Homo sapiens: one gene and its partners. The protein of the gene in region 3 interacts with the protein of the main gene of each other region in a pairwise test. Each region holds a gene or a part of one and is shown on either strand. Other genes may lie near its edges. The genes, in order: DHDDS, FBLN5, LOX and SOS2.

Region 1 (7,043 bases), on a different chromosome or scaffold from region 3:
TAGTTTCACTTGTTTCTATTTCAACATTTGTTTTTATCCCGTCTTCACTCCTCCCCTTCCCTACTGCCACCACCCTACCTCGAGGCGCATCCTCTCTCACCTGGACTACTGCAGGAGTTCTGTCTCTTGGCTTTAACTCCAGCCCGTTGAAAATTCTGAATGATTTTTACAAAATGCAACTCAGATCCCGTCATCCCCTGATTAAAGTCCTTCAGCTTTGTTACCATGACCTACAAGGCTCTATATGAGCCAAGGTCTGACTCTAGCCTCATTTCCTGCCCTTCTCCCTTGGCACATTGACCTCTTTTTTGTTCTTCCAAGACCCAAACTTTAACCTCAGTCTCTTTGCATTCTCTTCATTACTTTCTAGCACATCACTCTGTATTCTTCACTGCCTTATTACAATCGGAACTTATATATTTGTTTACTTGTTTATTTCTGTCTCCTCAAGAATACAAGTTCCACAAAGGTAGAGATCTTGTCCCTCTGGCTACCTGTTGACTCTCCTGTGCCTAATACAGTGCCTGATTCATACTACTCAATAAATACTTATGGAATGAATGAAACTTGAGTTAACTCCTCTGACAACCATATGCAAAGTATCTGAGAAACGTGAAATTACTATAAAAGACTTCTGAGCAGCCCAATTAGAGGTAAAAACACAAAAACTCATGCACCAAGCTCCTTTGGGCTTCATGCAGAGCCAGTTCACTCTCATTTTATATACATAATTCCAACAAGCTTGACTATCTGGTTTCCTTGTCTATAGCTGATTTAAAACAGTAAATACTATGGAAGAGGAGAGATACTGTCAAAATTAACTGTTGACAGCAGTAGGAAATGAAAGAGGGAGGACACAGAAAAATATACATGAAACCTCAAACCCAGGTATTCTGGGACCATCTAACTTAGAGCAAACAGCCCTACCCCTCAAGGATATTGTTGTACAATGAAGTGTTTAAAGATGATAATTACTATTATCATAATCATTAGAATATGACGGCCAGGCATGGTGGCTCATGTCTATAATCCTAGCACCTGGGGAGGCCGAAGCAGGAGGATCACTTGAGCTTAAGAGTTCAAGACCAGCCTGGGCAACATAGTGAGGACTTATCTCTACAAAAAATAACAAAAATCAGCCAGGCATGGTGGTGTGTGCCCATAGTCCTAGCTACTTGGGAGGCTGAAGTAAGCCAAAGTTGCACAACTGCACTCCAGCCTGGGCAACAGAGTGAGACCCTGCTAAAAAAAAAAAAAAACAAAAAATAGCACGTGATTATCCTAATCATCATCATTATTAGCAAGTGCCTGGTATATAGATTTCAATGAATTATGTACAAGATACATTTTAGAAATTTTTCCATCAAAAAAGGGTAAAGTTTTAGTTTTTAGAGGGAGCTTTGGTCATATGGAAAAATCTGATATTCATTCCCCACTGACAGTGGATAATTGTGCCTTTGCTGTTTTTCTTTTCACTAATTCTAAACTTCTTTTAATTTCCTCATATTCTGAGACTAAGTAATTAAATACATGATCAAGTCTTTGTGATTTGATTTACTTATAGCAGGAGTTATGGACTTGGGATTCAGGGGCAGATTTCAGCAGTTATGTGAACCCCCTTAAAGTATTCTATGTGTGGCCGGGCTTGGTGGCTCATGCCTGTAATCCCATCACTTTGGGAAGCCAAGGCGGGCGGATCACCTGAGGTAAAGAGTTCAAGACCAGCCTGACCAACATGGAGAAACCCCATCTCTATTAAAAATACAAAATTAGTTGGGATTGGTGGCGCATGCCTGTAATCCCAGCTACTCGGGAGGGTGAGGCAGGAGAATCACTTGAACCCGGGAGGCGGAGGTTTCGGTGAGCCGAGATTGCGCCATTGCACTCCAGCCTGGGCCGCAAGAGCGAAACTCCGTCTCAAAAAAAAAAAAAAAAAAAGTATTCTATGTGTTTCCATGATAAGTTTACAATTCTATGCAAAATTCCACATTTGAGTGATCTGCGATTTTTCTAGGGAGATGGTCTGTGGCTTTCATTAGATTATTCAAAGGGACCCCAATACCAAGGAGATTAAGAATCCCTGACTCACATCATTATTTCCTCCTGGCATTATCTCTCCAGACTGAAGAAGCAGCACCAGCTTTGATTTTAAAATTCAGGCTCTTCACGCCTGTAATCCCAGCACTTTGGGAGGCCAAGGTGGGCGGATCACCTGAGGTCAGGAGTTCAAGACCAGCCTGGCCAACATGGTGAAACACTGTCTCTACTGAAAATACAAAAATTAGCCAGGCATGGTGGCGTGTGCCTGTAATCCCAGCTAGTTGGGAGGCTGAGACAGGAGAATCGTTCAAACCCAGGAGGGGGAGGTTGCAGTGAGCCCAGATCGCACCACTGCACTCCGGCCTGGGCAACAAGAGCAAAACCCCATCTCAAAATAAATAAATAAATAAAGATAAAATTCAGGTTCCTTGGGACAGTTACTTAAGTCTCTCTGCCCCTCTGGTTCCATATATGAAAAATGAGGACACCAAAACTGCTGGGTTGTTAGGTTAAATAAGAAAACTTACATGAAATCACCTAAGTGCCCTCGTAGATCCTCATATGTTAGCTACCACTACCATTATTATAAAGAGACCTAATCATATACAGGTGACTGCTAATAAAACCTGTTTCAAGATTTGGTGATGAAAACTGAAAGTCAAACTTCAAGTCTTGACACAACATAGGTTTACACAATGGAAAGACAATGCTATTTAGTTCTTAATCCCTACTGCTACGATCTTTTATTAGGGTAATACTTTAAAGGAATAATGGCCAGTTTCTCTGAGAAGCCTTTTCCTCCTGAGTCTTTAAAAGATAAAAGACCTGTAGCTCAAATCCTATTCCTACCTCTTACTGATTATGTGTCCTTAACTAAATCATTTCTGTTTGCTTACTTACATAAGGGAGGGGCTAATAAGACTTCCCTCATTGGGTTCTTGGGAACATTAAATGAGTTGCAGCATGTAAAATGTTCGCAGTGCCTGACAAGTAGTAGATACTCAGTAGGTGGTAGCTACTATCATCATTATCATCATCTTATTAGGAAGTGCCTGGTATATAGTAAGGTGGTTGTCAATCAATGCTAATCTTTTCTTCCATCCCATCCCATCTGGCCAGCCCTGAACTCTTTCTTACCTGAAGCACGCTATGGTTCATCTGGAACTGCAGGATGGCCTCGAAGAGGTTCCAAAATGTATACTCTGGCCACAGAACGGGTTGGAACACCAGGCAGGAGTGAGAGGTCTGGGAAAGGTAGGGAGGAGAGTATGATTTAGTAACATGTTGCTGGGCCGCATCCCTGGTCAGTCCTCCAGGGAAAAAGCAGGCTAAGCAGGACCCAGAAGCCCAGAGATGACAATGTTACAGGCATCCTGAGCTGTAGCTGCAGCTGCTGCTGGCCCTGATTCATTCACTAGTAGGGGGAGGCGTCACTTGAGGCAGCCAGATCACCTGCCTGTGGTAAAGCAGAACTAAAACGAGACTAGATCAACATTTCCACCAGGATTTTTCTAAGAGCCAATTTTAGGACTATGAAATAACATCTGGATTATGTTATTGGCTCTTGGCCCTTAGAGGGCATCTGGAAGACATACTGTCTGATAAAGGTCACCAATGAACAAATGGTAGCTGCCATTGTTATTTTTAAGTACCAGCAGCAGGGCACAGTGGTTGAGAGCATGAGCTCTGGAGCCAGACTGCCTGGCTTTGAATTTTGGCTCCAACCATTTACCATTTATTTGAGCAGGGGTAATTTCACCTGGCCTGAGATTCCTCAAATGTAAAACTGGATAATAGGAATACCTAATTTTCAGGGTACTGTTTAGATTAAATGAGATAACATATGCATAGCAAAGAGCCAGGTGTACTTTAATAATAATCACTGATGAAGAATCCCCTTTGGAACACTCTTGACAGCCACTGCCTGATATCTCTAGTGGTGAGGAATTCAGTACCTCATGGGGGATAACTAGTTGTCCGATAGCCTGTTTGGCTTTTTATGCTAAACCAATGTCACCTTCCCTACAACTTCTACTAAGGTCCCAGGTATTTTTTCTGGAACAAGTTTGTTTCTTCTTCAAAGTGACATTCTTTCAAGTATTTCAAGGCTAGATTAGAGCTGCCTGTTATCAGTTCCCAAAGTTGTAATGACTTGTTCAGAGTTTGTCTTTGCTAGCAAACTATAAGTTTCAAGACAGTAGGGATCATTTCTGACTCACTCACTGCCATATTTCCAGCATAAAGAAGGAACTCAACACTTTTTTCCAAGGGAATACATTGTCACTTATTTCCCTTTTGCAGACCACTATCCTTTCCTCATTTTTTGTAAGACATGAGATTCCTTGCTTTCCAGTTTGGCCTCTTCCAGTAAGTCCTCAAGTTTGTCAATGTAACTAATTCTGTACACTGAGTAACTGACTCTGTAGTCTCTTAAAATTCAGCCCATCAGTAAACTTCCCAAACGTGATCTGAGCAGCACAGTGGGCCACAGAACCAATAGGTGCACATTGTACTTATTTCTTTTCTTTTTTTTTTTTTTTTTTTGCGACAGAGTCTCACTCTGTTGCCCAGGCTGGAGTGCAGTGGCACGATCTCGCCTCACTGCAACCTCTGCCTCCTAGGTTCAAGTGATTCTCCCACCTCATTCACCTAAGTAGCTGGGACTACAGGCACCTGCCACCATGCCAGGCTAATTTCTGTATTTTTAGTAGAGACAGGGGTTCACCATGTTGGCTGGACTGGTCTCAAACTCCTGACCTCAAGTGATCTGCCTGCCTCAGCCTCCCAAAGTGCTAGGATTACAGGCGTGAGCCACCACGCCCTGCGTTAGCTCACTTTTAAGATTGTGGTCCATTAAAATTTCTGGAGCTTTATCATGTGAGCTGCTTCCAAATGGAGTCTCTCCCAGAACAAGGACTTCCCCTAGTTATGTGCTCTCCAGGGACCAAGTTAACAGGGGATAGAGACTTGAGTGTTTGCATATTGTTTACCATGCTTGCATAGGTATGGCCCTTTATCCTGAAGGGGAGGGACTAGTAACTGCAAGGCAAGCTTCCAACCCAGAGGGGCTAGGGTCCCTGGCAGGTTACCAAGGCAAGAGCTTACGCTCAGGGATGCAAGACAGAAGTCCCATTCCTTGAAAAGCGGCACAATGAAGTTTTCACTATAGTTGGATTCGCAAAGCCAGCGACAGATGAGGAATGGACATCAAATATTATGAGACACAGCCTAGAGATGCTTCTCCAGATTTTAGCTTTCCCCAGAAGTACTCTGGCCCCAGCCTGTTTGGGAGTGGGGATGGACCACTCTGATCCATTCTGTGGATACAGTTGGTTTCCCCATGACACAAACATAATAGTACTTGGAAATGACCTACCTGCCATAGCAAGAAGTCACTCAGCCGCACTTCTCCAGAAGTCCGTATCAAGATGTCAGGATGAGGAGAGCGGTTGGTATAGAGGCACTTATCAAGCAGAGACTCAGAGATATCACTAAGATGAGCAAGAAGAGACAAAGAGAGGCACACATCCTGTAGTATTCTCTTTCTGTAGTGTTCTCATGGTGAACTTCCATATATAGGCTTCTCAGTTTATACAATACCATCAAATACACTAGCCAATACTACACAGAAGGCCCTCAAAAAATGTTTGCTAAATTAATGAATGAATTTAAATCTTCACAACTACATAAGGTATTTCTTTTTTTTTTTTTTTTTTAGAGAATACAATGTAAAATTCTTTTCTCTTTTTTATTTTTTGCCTTTTTTGACATGTTCTGATACATAAGGTATTTATTTATTTATTTATTTATTTGAGATAGAGTCTCACACTGTTCCCCAGGCTGGAGTGCAGTGGCACGATCTCGGCTCACTGCAAACTCTGCCTCCCAGGTTCATGCCATTCTGCCTCAGCCTCCCGAGTAGCTGGGACTACAGGTGCCCGCCACCACACCCTGCTAATTTGTTTTTTTTTTTTTTTGTATTTTTAGTAGAGACAGGGTTTCACCATGTTAGCCAGGATGGACTCGATCTCCTGACCTCGTGATCCGCCCCCCCCTCGGCCTCTGAAAGTGCTGGGATTACAGGCATGAGCCACCATGCTCAGCAGATACATAAGGTATTTCTATCCTCATTTTATAGATAAGGAAACTGAGGCTCAAAGATGAATAATTTGCTGAAAGTCATTTAGCCTCAGGCCTAAAACCAGATGCACCCACAAAAATATCTGTTGTCTTTTGCTAAAAACATCTTGTTTTTTAAAATACATACATACATCCTATGGCCCAGTATTTGATGAAATACTATGCAACTGCATTCTAAAAATAAAGATAAATCTAAATGCACTGATTTGGAAAGATGTCCAAAATCTAATGTTAAATGTAAAAGGCAAGTTTCAGAGAATATATAGTATAAAACATACACACACATTCAAACATTCACACGTGCATATAAGTATACATAAAGAACAAAGTCTAAAAAGATACATCATACTATTAACAGTGGATTGGATAAGAAGTAAGGAAGAAAAGACTATTTCTTTTTACTTTATGTACTTCTGTTATTGTTTGAATTTATGTAAATAACTTTTTTTGGCCAGGCGTGGTGACTCATGCCTGTAATCCCAGTACTTTGGGAGGCTGAGGCAGGCAGATCACCTGCGATCAGGAGTTTGAGACCAGCCTGGCCAACAAGGTGAAACCCCATCTCTACCAAAAGTACAAAAATTAGCTGGGTGTGGTGCCGCATGCCTGTAGTCCCAGCTACTTGGGAGGCTGAAGCAGGAGAATCGCTTGAACCCAGGAGGTGGAGGTTACAGTAAGCCCAGATTATGCCACTGAACTCCAGCCTGAGTGACAGAGCGAGGCTCTGTCTCAAAACAAAAAAAAACAGAAAACATATTTTATTTTTTTTCCAGACAGGGTCTCCCTCTGTTGCCCAGACTGGAGTGCAGTGGTGTGATCTCAGCTCACTGCAACCTCCACCTTCCATGCTCAAGCAATCCTCC
Region 2 (7,043 bases), on a different chromosome or scaffold from region 3:
GGCACTATACACGGCTTGCTGCTGATGCTGTGTGTGGAGTTATTGGGGTTATACAGGACTTACAAAGCTGTGATCCAAAGCCAGATGTTTCCCTCATTCCATCACCCCCTCCAGCCTACATACATACTTTTTTGTTTGTTTGTTTTTGTTTTTAGAGACAGGGTCTCGCTCTGCCACCCAGGCTGGAGTGCAGTGGTGCAATCATAGCTCACTGCAGCCTTGAACTCCTGGATTCAAGTTATCTTCTCATCTCAGCCTCCAGAGTGGCTGTGGTTACAGGTCATGCCACCACACCTGGCTAATTTTTTAATCTTTTTTTGTAGAGACAGGGTCTCACTATGTTGCCCAGGCTGGACTTGAACTCCCGGGCTCCAGGGATCCTCCCACTTCAGCCTCCAGAGTAGCTGGGATTACAGGCATGAGCCCCTGTGCCCAACTCTACATATATTTTATTAAACACACTTACTAGCCTCCATCTCAATCAAGAGGGGTTTTCAAAAAAAGAAAAACTGTTTAGAGATGCAGGCCCCTGAAGTTCAAGGATGCAGAAAGTGGTACCAGACTGTCTCCAGGAGAAGTCTGGAGATGTGAGCCCTGAGCTGCCCCACACCATAGAGAGGAACGGGGAATGCAAGGAGCTGATGTTGACATCCTGAAAGGCCCTTGTGTAAGGTCTGCTGCCAGGATGCAGTGATACCCTCCACCTCACTACCACCACGGCACATCTGTATGAGACATAGCCCCAGAATTAGGGGCTGAGAGGTTTGGAGTAGCAGGTGACCAACCACAGGCCCTACTGCCCATATCAGGGACTGGTCAGTGTGAAGTCCTCAGGCAAATCTCCAAAAGACCCACAAAAGCACCCTGTGAGAGCAACAGCTTTGGGGGCTCTGCTCCTGAGGGAATACCAATGCCTGGTTACAATGGCTACAATCGGGGAGGAGCCTCACTCTTCCAGCCTTACCCTTTCTACCACCTGCTCCTCCCCTGCCAGCCCTGGAGGAGCCAGGGCCAGCACTACCATTACCGGGAGGGTGACAAGAGGACAGGGCAGAGGCCAACCACACCCCTTGCCTGCTCTGAACTAGGAGACAGGGAGAAACTTCACAGTGGGTAAGAGACAGAGAGGTTGAAGTTTCCATTTAAACTAGTACAGACTTTTGACGTGAGAGAATGAGACAATCCAATAGAAATGGAACATGCCTGTGAATCCTAGGGAATTGACGTGAGATGTAACCCAGGTGCTCACAGGTTTGATCCAACAGCGTGAGAAAAAGAAAAAGTCATTGACTGTTTCACCCCCACCACCAAACTCCACTTCTTTGATAAAAACTGTATTCCAGATAGGGCACTAAGTGGATAATCTCATCTAATCCTAAAGTAAACACTCATCTAGAGGTCCAGAGGTGTTAGGTCACATCACACAATTGTGAAATTGTTAAACTGTAGAAGACATGGCTCCAGAGCTCACATTAGAATGACTGAGTGGTTTCCCGGGGAGGGTCCCGCAGCTTCAGACAGCATGGACCCTCGGAAAGCCAGCCTTATCGGGAAGATTTCTGTCTTCCTGCCTTGTGGCCCATGACTTCATAGGGCCCAGTCTCTAATGAAAGCATATAAACGCCCATGGACCTTTTCAATATGGCTCCCCACAGTGACCCTGGAAGATCACAGCAGCATCTGTTAGAAATGCAGATTCCTGGGTGCAGTATGCTGGGTAGTAGCCCCCAAAAAGATGCAAGTCCTAAATCCTTGGAACCCGTTCCGTTATAAGGAAAAGGGTTTTTGCAGATGTGATTAAGAATCTGGACAGAGAGATTATCTGGATTGTTTGAATGGGCCCTAAATCTACTCGCAGGTGTTAATATAAGAAGGAGACAAAGGGAGATTTGATACACACAGAGGAGGAAGAGGAGGCAGCGTGACCACAGAGGCAGATATTGGAGTGATGCAGCCACAGTCAAGAAGTGCTGGCGGCCCCCGGAAGCTGGAAGAGATATGGAACGGATTCTCCTCTAGAGCCTCCAGAGGGAGCACAGCCCTGCTGACACCTGGATTTCAGCTCAGTGAAACTGATTTCAGACTCCTGGCTTCCAGAACTATGAGAGAATAAATTTCCTTTGCCTTAAGTCACCAAGTTTTTATTGTTTTTCAGAGATGGGGTCTCGCTCTGTTGCCCAGATTGGAGTACAGTGGTGTGATCTCAGCTCACTGCAACTTCGACCTCCTGGGCTCAAGCAATCCTCCCATCTCACACCACCTCCCCGCCACACTGCCCCAGGTAGCTGAGACTACAGGTGCCTGCCACCATGACCGGCTAACTTTTTTTTTTGTAGAGACAGAGTTTTGCCATGTTGCCCAAGCTGGTCTTGAGCTCCTGAGCTCAGACAATCTGTCCACCTTGGCCTCTCAAAGTGCTGGGATTACAGGCATCAGCCCCCGTGCCTGGCCTGCATAGGAGGTACTTAAGAAATACTTGTCACATGGGTTGGTTGAAAAGTGGAGACGTGAATGCCTCTCCAACAGAATATTAGGAGAAAAGAGACCTAAGATTGCATCTTGGCCTAACTTCCCATTTCACAGATGAGGATCCTGAGGCTCAGGAGGAGAAGCATCTTTTGCAAGACTACACAGAAAGTGGTGGAAACCAGGACCTTGAACCACACCCTCCACTCTTCTCTCTGCCTACCTGTCCCCCAGCCCCACTCTTACCTGCTTGCATACAGCACGTTCCTAGGAGAGACAGCACAAGGCCACTGTTACAGATGGCGTCCCCACTCCCCACTCCCTCTTACCCGCATGTAAAATTCTCTGCCCTCATTCCCAGATTTGATCTGGAAAATGTAATAGGCCCCAGGGTAGCGGGTCGTGGCTTGCATTTGGAAGATGTCAGCGGGAACGGAGCGTCCTGACACCACGTCCATGTCCCGGTACAAGATGGTAAAGGGCTGGTCTCTGCAGCCAGGGTTCTCAGCAGGACACATACAGCGGCTGTGGAAAGGGAAATCACGTGAGAACTCAAGAAATCCATTCCAGGTGCTGGCTGTGCCTACTTCCTCTCTTAAAACACTGAAAATGAGGCCACCCCATTTTTAGCATCCAAATGCCATAACTGTAGAATGTCTCTGCTCCTGGCTTGAGTCTAAAATCTCTCCAGCATGTAGGCGAGCTCTGTTTCCTAGAGAATGGACTTTTCTCACCAACCAGATGTTCTGGCTACTAAATAGAATACAAACCTTAGATCTCTGGTTTTCAGAACATTAGAACATTCTCCAAGATACTTTACATTTGCCACGTAGGCCAAATATGCCACTCCAGCCTGGGCGGCAGAGCAAGACCCTGTCTCAAAAAAACAAAACAAAAAAAAAGGAAGAAAGAAAGAAATTTTTAAAGTAAGAAACTGGATTAACAGGTCTTGGGGATCCTTGTACATTCTCTATTGTGCTCAGCCCAGTCTGCATGGAATGTTACTGAATCGAATATAATCAAATCTTGTCATTCGATAATTGATAAGCAAGAGTTAGAACTATGTACAAGATGTGACATTGGACATTTTGGAAATTCAATGAATAATAAGATCCTGACCTCAGATAGTTTACTTTCTAATAGGAGAAATAAACCACAGACACAAATATCTCTAATACAAAGCAACTATTAACAGAGTGCCCTAATATAAAATCACTGACTTTTACTACCAAAGAATGCCTGTTATAGACACCCCTTGATTCACCCCTAACACCCCCTTCCTCTGTCTCTGACCCTGCCCTGAGACTCCACCTAGGGGCCAGGGTTCACAATAGGATGAAGATGTCTGTTGAGACGCGCGGTGGTGGCCAACGCTAGGAGTCAACCTTGCTGTGTTTCTGCCACTAACTTCCAATCTATCCACAAAACCTGTTGGTTCTACTTCCAAAAGAGAGTCCACATCCAACCATCTCCAGTGCCTTCAATGCACTCTTGCCTTCTCGCCTTTGCACATGCTGTTCCTTCTGATCTTCCACTCTCTATTTAGTTAAAGTCAACTCATTTTCCCATTCCAGCCCAAGTGTCATTTTTCAGAGAGGCCTTTGGACTCCTCCATCTAAACCATCCAGCCTACTCTTCCTTTTTATAAATTTCCATTCATTCTGAGCAGAGTATGGTGTCTCATGCCTATAATCCCAGCACTTTGAAAGGCTGAGGCAGGAGGATGACTTGAGTCCAGGAGTTCAAGACCTCTGGCTTTACCAAATACATATATATGCCAGGAGCACTGGCACACACCCATAGTCCTAGCTACTTAAAAGGCTGAGGCAGGACGATTGTTTGAGCCCAAAAGGTTGAGGCTTCAATGAGCTGTGATTGCACCACTGCGCTCCAGCCTGGGTGGCAGAGCAAGTTTCATTTTTTTAAGGCTGCATCAAAATAGCCAAGTCAAAATGTCTCTAGTGCCAAAATGGCCACAATAAAGTATCATGTGCAGCATAGAAAATCATTGTTTCCTAAAAGAAGTTTGGAGGAGGGAGTGATGGCTCCCAGCTGAAGAGGACCACAAACAGCTGGGAGAGGTGGCATCTGAGCTGAAATCTGAAAGATGGGGCAGGACTGGCTATGTGGAAATGAAAGGAATGCCTTCCATATGGCCGGAAGTATGTGCACACAAGAAGGGAGGCTGGCCATTCCTGGGCACGGGTAAAGGCATGAGCAAGTCCTGTTCAGACTGGCAGGAGCACAGGACACCTGAACTGGACAAGGAGCTGGAAGGGGCTGCCGGAGTCTGACTGGACTGGAGCCTGGAGTGAGGGAGTCACGGAGCATTGTCAGCGTCATGCCAGAGACTCCACCAGTAACTCCAGCTCAGTGCTGCAAGCTGAAATGGGTCAGCTCCCCAGCCACAGACGGGGTGGCCTGGAAAAACCCAGAGAGAACCAGGAATAGAAGCTGGGAAGAGCAGCCTGGAGCTCTGCTCTGCCACAAACAGGCCTTACGTCGGGGGTCAAAGAGCCCTGTTCTAAAGGGTTGCTTAGTAGCACAGCTCTTAGCAACAAGTGAAGATGTCCCTAAAGGATCCGCCTGTCCCGGCATTATCCTCTCTTTTGCCAATTTGTTATCAAAGTGGGTACCACTGGTAAGCCATGAATTCCTCTCTTAGAGGCTGTATTCCGAGAGGGCAGGATGGGTGTGTCTGATTCATCCTTTCGTCTCCCATGCGGGGTTTGGTGTTGCTCAAGGGAAGTCGATGTGTGAACATTTGGAATATAGGAGGCCAAGGAGGAACTGAGATGGTTTAAAAAAGGGATAAAAGAGAAGGAAAAGGAACTCCTACTATGCCAGGAACAGAAAGCCACTGTCCTACTGCATTCACCTTTTGGAAGTTGTCTTCACTTTAATTCTCTCCTCAACTCTAATATTTGCCGTCTGGTGATTTAGTAAAATGTTGACCAAGATGACGTCAGAAACTTGATTAGCACCAACGAGAGAACTCTCCAGCACCTCAATACTCAACTGTCCAGCACCTCAATACTCAACTCTCCAGCACCTCAATATTCACGGAGCAGTCCAGGGAGATTGGAAGCATTCATTTCACCTGGGAGCTTGCCAGAAAGGCGGAATCTTGGGCCCCACCCCAAACCCACTGAATCACACTTTAACGAGATCACCAGGTGAGTCCTATGAGTGTTACATTTAGAAGCCAACCTCTGAAAGACCCCATGTATCCAGAACAAAGTCATTAGAGGGAAGAGGAGATTCTAGAACCCTGACTCAACTCTCGGCTTGGTTAGCTTTCTAGAGAATCTTTGCATAGCTCTGGCATGAGTAGCGGAGTGATAGAGAACTCTGTGGGAGTGTGCGTGCGTGTGTGTGTGTGTGTGTGTGTGTGTGTGTGTGTGTTTTGAGACAGAGTCTCACTCTGTCACCCAGACTGGACTGCAGTGGCACGATCTCAGCTCATTGTACCCTCCTCCTCCCAGGTTCAAGCGATTCTCATGCCTCAGCCTCCTGAGTAGCTGGGACTACAGGCCCGTGCCACCAGGCCCAGCTAATTTTTTTGGTATTTTTAGTAGAGATGGGGTTTCACCATGTTGGCCAGGCTGCTCTCAAACTCTTGAGCTCAGGCAATCCACCCACCTCAGCCTCCCAAAGTGCTGCGATTACAGTCATGAGCCACCGTGCCCAGCCTTGCATGTGTTTCTTACTGTGTGTTGTGGTCAAACATTTTGAAAAATAGTTCTTTCTTGTATATAGGGATGTGTTTCAGACCCTATAACTTGGAATGGAATGTTTTGCAAACTTTTTGACAACCTACAGTAACACACTTTGCACTGCAAACCAGTAGCACACAAAACTAAAAGATAAGTTTCAAAAAACAATATTGACTCTTGCTATGTGCAATGTACTCTGATATTTTCTATTCCAGTCTGTTCTATCTATTCTACTCTGTTCTATTCTACACACACACACACACACACACACACACACACACGCATGAGCACATGACGTAGGTAGTAGGCCAGGTCCCCTCACTTCCTGGCTGGTGCACTCTCTTTCACACCACACCTCCAACCTCCTGAGCCAGGCCCTCATCAGGTTTCTATTCCCCAGGGGGACGCCGTGACTTACTTATCACTGATCCTCAGATAAGGCTCCTCACAGCGGATGGGGTCAATGCATTTGAAGCCCCCTTGTAAATTGTAGCACGTCTGCTGCAGGTTGCACGTGTGGTTCCTGTGCTCACATTCGTTGATGTCTGAAATGCAGGGGAGACAAGAAGCGGAGGCAGGGCATTATTGGCCAGGCCAGACGCGTGGGGGTGGGGTAGGCTGGATCTTACTACAGAGCTGTACTATCCAATATGGCAGCAACAGGCCATATGTGGCTACTGAGTACTTGGAATGTGGCTGATCCAAATTGAGATGTGCTGTAAGTAGAAAATACACACCAGATTTTGATGACTTAGTACCAAGAAATAATGTGAGCCAGGCACAGTGGCTTACGTCTGTAATCCCGGTACATTGGGAGGCTGAGGCAGGAGGATCACTTGAAGCCAGGAGTTCAAGACCGGC
Region 3 (5,565 bases):
TTTTTGTGGGTTAATTTTGTGAGTTGTTCCCCCAAAACACTTGCCCAAAGTTTGGGCCTGTTTGCCCTCTCATGTTACCAGATTTCAGGCTAATCTGGTGCATATTTAAATAAGGATTACTATGATAGCAATGTGTCTCTTTATACAAATAATTTGTAGCTAGAATTAGATGTGTGTGTGTGTATGTGTGTGTTTATATCTATAGTCAGATATATTTCTTGTAAACCTTAATTAAAGCAGTGTGATTGTTCTTGCAATGCCTGCTCTGTGTCCTTATAAGTAGCTGGTACTGGTGATAAAAGTTTATGTATGACAGTGTCTACTTAAAACATCAGCTAGATTTTTATCCATCATAGACAAATTTCCAGTGTGACCTAATTAAACAATTTTTTAGTACAAAAGGCAATTAAGAGAAACTAACACCATATCCATGGCTTATAACATTTCAACTAAAATGAAAATCAGATGATTTATTTATATAACAACAAATGACTACTATAGACACTTGAAATCATTTATTCAAGGCATTTTTATATAATCTTGCAATCATAGTATAGATGTATAATAAAAGAATATGAGAATGCAAAGAGGAACATAAAGCCAATGTCTGAGCATTTAAAATAAGAGTTCTTCAAAAAAGTTACACGTCTTACAAATAACATTCCTGAAAAATTTGGGAGAAGCTAAAACTTCACTAAAAACCTAACACCAAATGACATGTTACTTAGTTTATAGCAAGCAGTTTTATATTAATTAAATGTTTATATACCACAAGCTAAGATTTAATGCATTTTACATTCAGATTTAAATAACTCAGCACCATTTTAGCTTAGAGGATAAATGAAATGTTTAGTGTTTAAAAGTGGCCCAGGAATTTTGGTAGCTAGGAATGAGACTTAACTCACTGATTGAATATGTTGATTGTGAATATGAGTTCAAAAAAATATGTATATATAGAAAAAAGAGTACTTTTTAGTTATCAGTTAATACACTGATTCGTATCAAAACACATTATTTTTAAAACAAAATATCTCCTTACCAGGAATTCAGTATTTTCATGCAATCTGCTAAAGATTAACTCTCAGTGCCAGGAAAATTTTAATGAATTGCATTTCTTCTAGAATCCGAATATTGGGAATGTTTATAAGTGTGACTATCCTATGAGATTTCAAAGAGAAAAAAAGTACTACAAATAATGCCTAGTGAGTAATTGGATGATAGAAATTGTAAATAAAGTTATTCTATAAAAATATACAGATTTTCTGGAAATAGGCAAGTTGTATTCTCATATATGTTATGCTAGCCTCAGAGGTCAAGACATCTTTAACCCAGACTGTGGTCTGAATCATCATGAGATCGCTAATATGGCATATTGTAAACTGACTCATAAACTCTGAAATTATGTTCCTATTTAGTCCATTTTCTGTCTTTTTTAGTGTAAAAGCCAATCTCCTGTCAGTACTCAACATTCTTTTTATCATTGCCAGTTCCTATTTTTTAAAATGTATTTAGAGTTTGGTAAGACTGGTCTGTGTTATTTTATTAATTGATAACCTTCATCAACTAATTATTATCTTTGAGTTTCGGCAGTTATTCAGAGAAGAGATTCAAAGTTCAAAATAGTTCAAAGAAGTTCAGTAATACAGAGTGTTAAATCAGTACTTGTGAGTTATTTGGGTGTGTTTAGAGGTGCCAGGAGGGGGATGAATGTTCATATAAGGAATAAAGTAGTATTTTTAGCTTCCTAATTGAAAAAAAAAAATCGTCAAAATTAACCAAATAGTAGGTGTTATATTTAAAAGGCAGACATTTCAGGGATTGAACACATTTTTAATTATTAGAAATACATACATGCATATAATTAACCTTTAATTTATTTTTAAAAATAAATTATGGTCATGAAAAACAATAGTGCTTAAAATTGAAATTTCATAGACATGTAATTTTATTCCCTAAAAATGAAATAAGATGAACCTTATGGGTAATAATGGGATTTTTAATACTTATTGAGGTTATAGACAGTCTTTTTTATGTCTCAATGCATACCATGTGAGTACTTGGCATATATTAGGCCTTCAAATGATGATGGATGGATAGACAGATAAAAGGCCCAATGAATGATTGTAAATGTGTCTTCTCCTATGTATCCATGATGATATTGCCTAGTTTTTAATACAAGCTTAAGAATCAATAAAATGATAGATCTGAAATCTGTAGATGCCAGTCTGGCTCAGTATTAATACTGACAGTAGTTTTTTTGTTTTTTAAGAAAGCAAGTATATTAAAATATCTCTGTTAGAAAAGATTACAATTTGAAAGGATCATTCTACAATCTTAGAACTAAAAAGCAATTTAAGGCAAAGAGGTACATCAAAGAAGCTATTCCATAGCTCAGTTACAGCTCAACAAAAGCTCTGTCTGTATTGTCTACTGGTAAGCTTGTGCCCTGGTGGCTAAGGATCATATGTACCGCTATATCCGCCAGTTGATGACTGTCCATCTCTAGCCCCTCTAACCATGCTATGCACCCAGTGAGTGCAGAATGATTACTAGTAATTGATGTTGACTTTACAATTCTATGACATGTAATACAGGATGCCGAGGCACTTTTAAAATTCCACCTAACATGTTCTGGCACTGGAAAATCTTACTTGAGATTTTAATACTGGTTAATATAGGAAAAATTATGCTTAAGCACCACTAACTTAAAAGTGTAATTTCATTTTCTTGAATTTAGGTAAAAGCAAAATTCTCAAAATTCTATTATGGCACATGGTTTCACAGTTTCAAATGAAATCACAGCTGTCTCATTACGCAGCACAGTCCTTGGTTTTGCAGAAAGTATATTTTTCCTTTGTTCACCAACCCCTCAAGTATGTAATACTATGTGCTTTGCTAATTTAGACTATATCTCAGACACACACACATGTGTGACTGATTCCTGAATAACCCAGGATGATGTTCCTGTGTTCTAGATAATATAAAATTTTTAACATTCCTCTAATAGCTGAACATCTTTTTAAAATCTAGAAAACTTGAAAAATCCTAAAATGTTTTTCAATTTTTTTAAGCTATTTGAGAGACAGTTGTGGTTTGGGGGGGACTTGTTTGTGTGATTTTTATGTCAGCAAGAAAATTGTATCTTTGGCAAATACTTTAATATGTTTAAATGCATTTTACCTCTGGATGTATCACATCAGTCATCAAAATGACTTTCCAGTTTCACGGCTGCCTTATGTATACCAGTCCCAAGAATGGTGATATTAAGAATCCCACTTACAACATCTCTGCCCATGGGAAAGATAAAATGATAGAGGGCAGCCTCAAGAAATATCAGACAGGATTGGGCAGCTCCCTTACTTAATTTGTTCCAAAACAAAAGTTGACTCAAGTCAAAATGAAATTGTGCACTTGAAAGAAAGGAAGTTATCTACTAATTTTTTAAATGTAAACATACTTTTTATATAGGGATGTAACTATCTGAGTACATGTATTGCCATTTCTCTGCTATATAGTAATATTTCTTGACACCAATGGTAATGTGTTTGTTTCTTTCTCAGCACCAGATGTGTCCATATGTATTTAAACAGTAGGAGCATTGTTTCTAAATTCATCTATGCTATGACATATATAAACCCATTATTATTATGTTTCACTAAAGTTCCAGCACTTTAGAAAAGTTTCAGTTCAAAGTCATTTTGGCTCATTCATTTAGATAATACTGACCATTTTGCACTACAATTTCAAAAGGAACATGAGAAATTTGGATTTCTTTGAAAGAGTCAAATATGTAATTACAGAATTGAAACACTGTGTTAATTCACAAAGTGATGTAAATAATAAACATTAAAAATTTCCCAAGTAATGATGACTTAAGCGTTCAAAATCCAGTTATGTGCTTTGTTATTGAAAACAGTCCAAACAAAAATTCTTTTGTTGTTTTCTGTTCTCTTTTTCAAAATACATAAATCCTACTGAAGTTAGTCTATTTTTTCCCACTTCAGAACACCAGGCACTGATTTATCCATTGGGAGTTTTGCTTTGCCTTCTAATACCTAGATTAAGAAGACAAAATAAGACAAATTATTAACCTGATAATATAATGAATGAGTACAACAGACAAATTTAAAGTCAACCTTTTAAAAACTTTATGCAACAGTTTCCCTCCACCTAAGCAGCAATCATGTTGTGAAATTATGCAGTAGTACATCATTTTAATAATGGTTTGAAGAAAGTGACTATGTCAACAGCAGAGATGCCTGATGCCTACACTCTTCACATTTAGAGGCAAAGAAACCACTTCTGAAACACTCAAGAGTACAGCAGGACTTCTGGGACCAGCATCCCTGACCAGGGGAATTCATTCCATGGAACAAGGGTGGCATGTCCACCAAGAAGTAGAGTCAAGGCCTCTGCTCCATCTTGAATTAGTCCTTCTCCAGCATGGCTTTGGATGTAGAATAATACATTAATAGGCAGAAACTGGACCAAAGCTAATCAATCAAATATTACTGTCTTTAAATGTGACCATAGATCTTCATGTAAGGAAGTGAAAATTCACTTATTCAAATCATAAACTACCAATTTCCAAACAGTAAATTCTGTGAGGAGAAAAAAAAAAACTTACATAGTATCTTATAACTGAAAGAAGCCTCAGAGTCACCTGGTCCGTACATTTTGTTTCAGTGAGGAAAATGAAGGAGAGAGGGTACATTAACAGCACATACCTATTCAACTATTTACTGGGTGGCTTTTACACATCAACAGAATGCTCTTAAATATCTGGCAGGAAAAGCAATCAGTGAACTGATACATGATATGTCTTCAGAGTCACACTCACTGCTGCTTACACAGCCACCAGACTGACCTGATGGCCTTAGGCAAGTTACACTTCCTGCTCAAAAAGCTTCAGCCTCCCACTGCCTCCAGAATAAATTTTAGCCTGCTCTTCAGGGCTGTCTTCCATCTGGCTCAACTTACTTTTCCATCCTTTTTGTCCAACTCGTAACTCCACAAAATTCATGCTTTAGCCAAACTAGAAGACTTGTTTTTCCAAACATGCCCTGCAGTTTCCTCCTGCCATGCAAGTTGCCTGTGACGTTGACTTGCCCTGGGCTTCCTTTCCTTAATGCTCCCCGGTGCATTCCCCAGACTTCAAGGCTCAATTCAAATGTATCCTAAAGTCACTCCTGAAACTCAGCCCAAAGAGACCTCTCCTCTGTCTGAACTCTGATTCCTAGGAAGGAAGGCCTGATGTGAAAGTCAAAATGTAAGAAGCAAGTATTACTATCCTGAAGGTGTGGGGTTTTTTTCTCAAATATTCTATACTTTCCCCAATATTTCCACTCAGAATAAGTATGACATTTTATTATGATCACTAATTATAATTTCACTTTTCATATTTTCATCTGGTTTATATTAGTTATAAACATTCCAGCTTCAACCACTCTTGAAGTTTGTTACAGTCAGTAATAACTAGTAAAAAAAAAAAAAAAAAAAAAAATTCAACTCTATATGAGTGACCACATCAGGAATCCCTCTTGTACAGTCATATTGCTGGAGCAA
Region 4 (7,043 bases), on a different chromosome or scaffold from region 3:
AATACATATTTTTCTTACCGTTCAATCAGTAAGCTCAGCAATTCCTGTGGTTTACAAAATGAACGATATGTGGTAAGAAAAGTACGAACAAAATTGGGATCTGAAAAGGCAGAGCATAAAATAGGTTTCATGTTTAATGTATTCAGTTTAATTAACTCAAAGTACCATATTTGGAGGCCTTCCTCCCTTTTTCTTTTTACTTTGGCTCCTCAGATTGTGGCTTTTCCTAACAATCATGGTACTGGCAGGATACCATGGTATCCCTGCCATACATAGAGAAATACTGACATAGAGAATATACTATGGTATATCCTTAATAAGCGAGGATTGTTTTCAAATTTGAAATTCATGAATATGGCTGGGTGAGGTGGCTCACGCCTATAATCTCAGCACTTTGGGAGGCCGAGGTGGGCGGATCACGAGGTCAGGAGATCGAAACCATCCTGGCTAACACGGTGAAACCCCATCTCTACTAAAAATAAAGAAAAAAAAAATTAGCCGGGCATTGTTGCGGGCGCCTATAGTCCCAGCTACTCGGGAGGCTGAGGCAGGAGAATGGCGTGAACCCAGGAGGTGGAGCTTGCAGTGAGCAGAGATAGCGCCACTGCACTCCAGCCTGGGCAACAGAGCAAGACTCTGTCTCAAAAAAAAAAAATTCATGAATATGCATATTTTATGAATATTTATTCAATAATTAATGAAGTTAACAATATTACATTTTTAGACCTTTAATTCCTTCTCTTATTTATTCCTTTTGTTTTTGCAGTATTTTTATATTTTGGAGGCAATCCATTTTTTCCCCAAGCCTCAAATATTTTTGAGCATCCTTAAAAAGCTTTTGGGTCCCAGGCCCTAGGTCAGCAGTTGTAATGAGTTTCACATACCTGCATACATATGATATGTTAACCTTTCAATTAATTTCACTACAGTTCCTCCTTTAATAATGGGGATGCCACTTCTACTTTGCAAGTTGTCTTCAAAAACAATGTTTTCCTCAGAGTCTTTTACTACAAAACGATATACTTCAGGACTTGGTAATCTCAGTGGTTGCTCATTTTCTTCTTTCAATAATACTGAATCTAACATTCGATCTAGAGTACTACGATAATGAAGAGAAATAAGGGCTGCCATCCAGTTGTTTTTTTCTTCAGCAGACTTAGCAGCAAATATTATGCTGTTCTCATCTTTGGATACTAATTCAAATGCATGCTTGTGCTCACAAGTATCTTCTTTATCACAAATTTGTATTTTCCTCATGACAAATTTTTCTTTTAACCTGTATTCTGCACTACTGTAACCTGGAAGCCGAGTCTGGCCATGATTAGGTTTACAACTGATCATTAAGCCATCAAACAGAAAAATATGCCGTTCATGTTTGGCACCGATTCTTGTCAATGGTCCCTCCATAATGAATTCATTACAACACTGTCCAATATCTTTGCCTTCCCATCCATCGATATTTTTCTGAATTTCATTCATTTTTTTGATAGCCAGGTGTTTGCTTCTTAATTGGTGACTATAAAAAGGGCAAACAGGATCTCTAGAAAAAACAAACAATATAGCTTATTCAACAGCTAGCAACCCAAATGGTTTCAAGCATAAACCATCTCAAATCAAGTGAGTAAAATATTAAATAACCAAACAGTAGCTTTTACGCACAGCATTTAGTTCTAACTTTGCCACTAAATAATACAGCCCTCAATTTCATTATTATGAAAGAGAAGTACTACTGGCTCTATAAGAACTAAAATTACAAAAAATCCTAAATTTCTTTCATAGATTATATTTTTAAACATTTATTAAGTCTATCCTAATAATATAACAATGCTAATCTTTTTTTTTTTTTTTTTTTTTTTTTTTTTTTTTTGGAGCTCTTGTCCCCCAGGCTGGAATGCAATGGCACGATCTTGGCTCACTGCAACCTCCCCCTCCCAGGTTTAAGTGATTCTCCTGCCTCAGCCTCCCGAGTAGCTGGGATTACAGGTGCCTGCCACCACGCCTGGCTAATTTTTGTATTTTTAGTAGAGATGGGGTTTCACCATGTTGGCCAGGCTGGTCTCAAACTCCTGACCTCAGGCGATCTGCCCACCTTGGACTCCCGAAGTGCTGGGATTATAGGCGTGAGCCACCGTGCCCAGCCAACAATGCTAATCTTAAGACTAGGCTGGGTTGGCCAGGTGCAGTGGCTCAGACCTGCAATCTCAACACTCTGGGAGGCCAAAGCAGGCAGATCACCTGAGCCCAGGAGTTCAAGACCAGCCTGGGCAACATAGCAAAACCCTATTTCAACAAAAAATACAAAAATTAGGCAGGTGTGTTGGCATGTGCCACCCAGCTACTCGAGTCCCAGCTACTCCAGAGGGTTGAGGCAGGAGGACTGCTTGAGCCCAGGAGGTTGAGGCTGCTGTGAGCTGAGATCACATCACTGCACTCCAGCCTGGGCAACAGAGTGAGACCCTGTCTCTTAAAAAAAAGAAAAAAAGGCTGGGCGCAGCGGCTCACACCTGTAATCCGAGCACTTTGGGAGGCTGAGGTCAGGAGTTTGAGACCAGTCTGGCCGACGCGGTAAAACCCCGTCTCTACTAAAAATACAAAAATTAGCTGGGCATGGTGGTGGGCTCCTGTAGTTCCAGTTACTTGGGAGGCGAAGGCAGGAGAATCATTGGAACGCAGGAGGCTAAGGCTGCAGGTTGCAGTGAGCTGAGATTACACCACTGCACTCCAGCCTGGGCAAGAGAGACTCCTTCTCAAAAAAAAAAAAAGGAAAGGAAAAGGAAAAAAGAGAGTAAAAGACCAACATAAAAGTATATAAAAGTATGACAAGCACAACTTTCAATAATGTAACTATCACAATAAATCACACTTCTTTGAAAACCAGGCATCAGAGACAGCGAAGTAAGCAGAGGCATTCACGTTTTCAACACTTTGGAATTACCCAGGTCGACGTCTAGGTGAATACTGCTTGTAAATTCGGTCCATGCTACCTTGGAGATTCATGAGAGCAGTAATAGCTTGGTTCAAACATTCTCTGTCTTCTTGTTCTTCACTACATGCTTTCAATTGCTAAGAAAAAACAGAAAGAAAAATCAAAACTGCATTGTTTGATTCTTCCCCCAACTTTCTAGTAATAGAAAAAGCAGCAACAAATATTATCAACTCTAAGTTAATTTTATATATACTTAATAAAAACAGCTATAATTTTATATATACCTACTGCCCTCTCAAACCAACCCTTTTTCTTTCTTTTTTTTTTTTTTTTTTGAAACAGGATCTCACTCACTGTGGCCTTGAGCTCCTGGGTTCTAATGATCCTCCACTCTCAGCCTCTCAAGTAGCTGAGACCACAGGCGAATGCCACCACACCCAGCTAATTTTTAAAATTTCTGTAGAGACAGGGTCTCGCTATGTCTCCCAGGCTGGTCTTGAACACCTGCTCAAGCTATCCTTCTGCCTCTGCCTCCCAAAGTGCTGGGATTACAGGTATGAGCCACCAGTCCTGGCCCAACCTTCTTTCTATAAACATAAACACAATACAGATATAAACTAACATGAGCATAGTAATCAGGAAAAAAAAAAGCAACTGTAAAAACCATTCGGACATTTTATTTTTATTTTTTATTTTTTTGAGACAGGGTCTTACTCACTCCGTCACCAAGGGTGGAATACAGTGGCAGGGCTAACTGCAGCCTCGATCTCCTGGGCATAAGGCTTCCCGAGTAGCTGGGACCACAGTTGCATGCCACCACATCCAGCTAATTTTTTTATTTTTATTTTTTGTAGAGATAGGGTCTCACTAGGCTGGTCCCAAACTCCTGGACTCAAGCTATCCTCCCATCTCTGCCTCCCAAAGTGTTGAAATTACAAGTGTGAGCCACTGTGCCAGGCCACATTTTCCAAACATATTTAAAAAGTTTAAAACACCTAAAGCATGAAGCTTACAACTTACTTTTATTCATTAGCAACTATGAATAGAGAAAATAAGTAACTATAAACTATTTCATATTCTCTAATGATTACTTTGTTTTAGCAATTTCAAGTTTACAAATCTTTGTTATATAACATAATCAAGGGTACTAACTTTTAACACTTCAATCTATCATAAACTTTTCCGTAAACAGCATCTCTCAAAGGATTCCACTGCTATTTTTTACAATATGAAATGTCAAGAAACCATGAAAATTAATTCTATCTCAATCTTTAGAAGATTTAGAAACTGACTTATTAATCTCTAAAACTCTGGTTCTATTTCATTTGCCCCAAAATGTTCTCTTGTATTTCACTCTCAGAAAGAAAGCAAATTTACTTATAATAAATAATTCAGATTGTATTGTATTGTGCTCCAATGTTTTGATTTTTTTTTTTTTTTTTGAGACAGGGTCTCACTCTGTCACCCAAACTGGAATACGGTGAGGTGATCATGGCTCACTGCAGCCTTGCCTCAACCTCCTGGACTCAAGTGATCCTTCCATCTCAGCCTCCCAAGTAGCTAGAACTACAGATGTGTGCCACCATGCTTGGCTAATTTTTTTTTTTAATTTTTCTGTAGAGATGGGGTCTCACTATGCTGCCCAGGCTGCCCTCAAACTGTTTTAATCTTTTGAAAGAAGAGTTCAAAGTGGAACATCATATAGATATTATATATATTATGTATTTATAAATATATATTTATGCAAGGATATGGGGAATTATGATCACTTCAGAAAATTTTTAAAAACTTAAATCTATTTTGTGATCTTTAACTTATTAGAGATTTTGTGATAAATTAAAATTTTCCTTATATTCCAAGAGCAATCTCAAAAGCATTCAGCAATGGTTCCCTTTCCTCAGCAAAGAACTAACTGGCTATTGTTTGACAACTTTGTCCATTACCTTTTATTTATGTCTTAGAAATTAGTCTCTATATGAAGCACAGAGCCATTTGATTTTATTTCAAGACACATGTAGAGGTCTTGTCATCAAGAGATTAGCAACATAAATAATGTAAATGACTATTATTAGAAGTAATACCTTAATCTCTAGACTAAGCAATAGAAAGGATGGAAGCAAAGTCAAAATATCATAGAAAGTTTGAAAAAAGATCTGTGCTTGGTTATTCTGACTTCTACAGGTGAAAGTTACTGGCAAAATCACTTATTTTGCTGCTTTAAAGATTTCTTACAGAAAGTCTTCTCAGCTCCACTCTAAAATATTTCTTTAATAAATATGAATGTTGATGACATCAAACACTTAATTAGAACTGTTTTATTCTTGTTTTTGTTTATCCAAATATCTAAATTATCACCAGTAGTGATATCCTACCAAAAAGGTATGATTTTCATTGTCTACTTGGTCTTAAGGCTGCTCAAACTCTTCCACGTGTCATTTTTAAATAACCATGTAATAATTATAAGCTGTAAAGGAGAACAAAATTGAGGATATTTAGAGTGGGATTTCCTGGTAATGGAAGTATATTAAACAACGGCTCTGTTTGGCATAATAATCTGATAATTTGCTAAATATTTCTTGAATTTTCAGCAGTGAGATTTGATAAACATCATATTAATGAATATCCAACTAATATTCTACAGATACTTAAAAGAATGTGTTCCAAACATCTTACACAGAAATTACTGGGCCAGGCAAGGTGGCTCACACTTGTAATCCCAACATACTGGGAGGCCAAGGCGGGCAGATCACTTGAGCCCAGGAGTTCAAGACCAGCCTGACCACACGGAGAAACCTTGTCTCTACAAAAAATACAAAAATTAGCCGGGCGTGGTGATGTGCACATGTAGTCCCAGCTATTTGGGAGGCTGAGGTGAGAGGATGACCTAAGCATGGGAGGTAGAGAATACAGTGAGCTGAGATTGTGCCATTACACTCCAGTCTGGGTGACAGAGTGAGACTCTGTCCCCCGCAAAAAAATGAAAATAAAAATAAAAAATACAAAAAAAAATTAGCTGGACGTGGTGGTGCATGCCTGTAATCCCAGCTACTCAGGAGGCTGAGGCATGAGAATCACTTGAACCTAGGAGGTGGAGATTGCAGTAAGCCAAGATAGCACCACTGCACTCCAGCCTGGGTGATAAGGCGAGATTCTGTCTCCAAAAAAAAAAAAGAAAGAAAAAGAAAAGAAAAATTACTGTACTGAACTATGTGCAAACAAGTAATGTACTTTCATGCCCCCATTCGCTTTCTACACAACAGTCTCTGACCTCCTTATCCACCCGGTGAATTTAGCCACTAGGATACAGTTGAAATGCTTCCTCTTGAAGATGCCTTCTGATTATGCCTTTTCCCTCTTAAATTTTTTCTTTTGAAATATCAAATTTATAGAAAAGTTGTAAAAGTAACACAAATAACTCCTGTAATACTCTGAATCACCAATTTTTAACATTTTGTCACATGCTTCATCATTCTGTGTGCCAGTGTGTGCAGATCGTTTTTTTAGTAGTTGTGATACTATCCACTCAGTTCCTTCCAGAGGAAGGGGGACTACGGCTGAATGGTTTTGCAGTAGTTTTTGGAATATAAGGAAAAGTCAAATGTATCACAAATTACTCTCAAATAGTATCATTCTCCTTTACTCCTTTAATATTTCTCATAGCTCATCTTACAACAAGGATTTTCTTTTACAGAATCACAGTATAGTGATCAACTTCAGGAAATTTAACACCGAGTAATCTACTGCATAATCTAATCTATAGTGTATATTCCAATTTTGCCAACTGTTTTAATAACATCCTTTAAGGTAATATTTTCCCCCAAAACAGGAACTGGTCAGTGAAGCACTAAATTGTCATGTTTCTATTGTCTCTTTTATTCTGGAGAGTTCCTAAGCATTTGTCTTTCATGACTCCCGCAAATAAATAAGGACACACACACCCGCGCACACACTGTTCTCTCTCTCAGTAGGACGAATACCCAAAACCATTATGTATTTTTTTTTACTCCACTGAACAAAGGAAAAATCAATAGGAATTTTTTTCTGCCTTCCCTAAGCAGAGCTAGTAACTCCTGCTTCATTGATCTCATAGTACTACCTCTATTAGGCTCTTATAATA

What was found.
Region 1: the proteins of LOX (region 3) and DHDDS interact in a two-hybrid assay, tested with the Homo sapiens proteins (one study listed by BioGRID).
Region 2: the proteins of LOX (region 3) and FBLN5 interact in a two-hybrid assay, tested with the Homo sapiens proteins (one study listed by IntAct).
Region 4: the proteins of LOX (region 3) and SOS2 interact in a two-hybrid assay, tested with the Homo sapiens proteins (one study listed by IntAct).

What each region holds. Positions count from the first base shown.
Region 1 is NC_000001.11:26,456,279-26,463,321, reverse strand, and holds part of DHDDS (dehydrodolichyl diphosphate synthase complex subunit DHDDS), read right to left. Parts: intron 5,532-7,043; coding exon 5,417-5,531; intron 3,286-5,416; coding exon 3,178-3,285; intron 567-3,177; exon of another isoform or gene 452-566; intron 1-451. UniProt on the Homo sapiens protein: With NUS1, forms the dehydrodolichyl diphosphate synthase (DDS) complex, an essential component of the dolichol monophosphate (Dol-P) biosynthetic machinery.
Region 2 is NC_000014.9:91,874,692-91,881,734, forward strand, and holds part of FBLN5 (fibulin-5 isoform 1 precursor), read right to left. Parts: intron 6,728-7,043; coding exon 6,601-6,727; intron 2,992-6,600; coding exon 2,796-2,991; intron 1-2,795. UniProt on the Homo sapiens protein: Essential for elastic fiber formation, is involved in the assembly of continuous elastin (ELN) polymer and promotes the interaction of microfibrils and ELN. Stabilizes and organizes elastic fibers in the skin, lung and vasculature.
Region 3 is NC_000005.10:122,062,695-122,068,259, forward strand, and holds the end of LOX (protein-lysine 6-oxidase isoform 1 preproprotein), read right to left. Parts: intron 4,056-5,565; coding exon 4,049-4,055; 3' UTR 501-4,048; downstream 1-500. UniProt on the Homo sapiens protein: Responsible for the post-translational oxidative deamination of peptidyl lysine residues in precursors to fibrous collagen and elastin. Regulator of Ras expression. May play a role in tumor suppression. Plays a role in the aortic wall architecture.
Region 4 is NC_000014.9:50,158,547-50,165,589, forward strand, and holds part of SOS2 (son of sevenless homolog 2), read right to left. Parts: intron 3,064-7,043; coding exon 2,936-3,063; intron 1,541-2,935; coding exon 885-1,540; intron 101-884; coding exon 19-100; intron 1-18.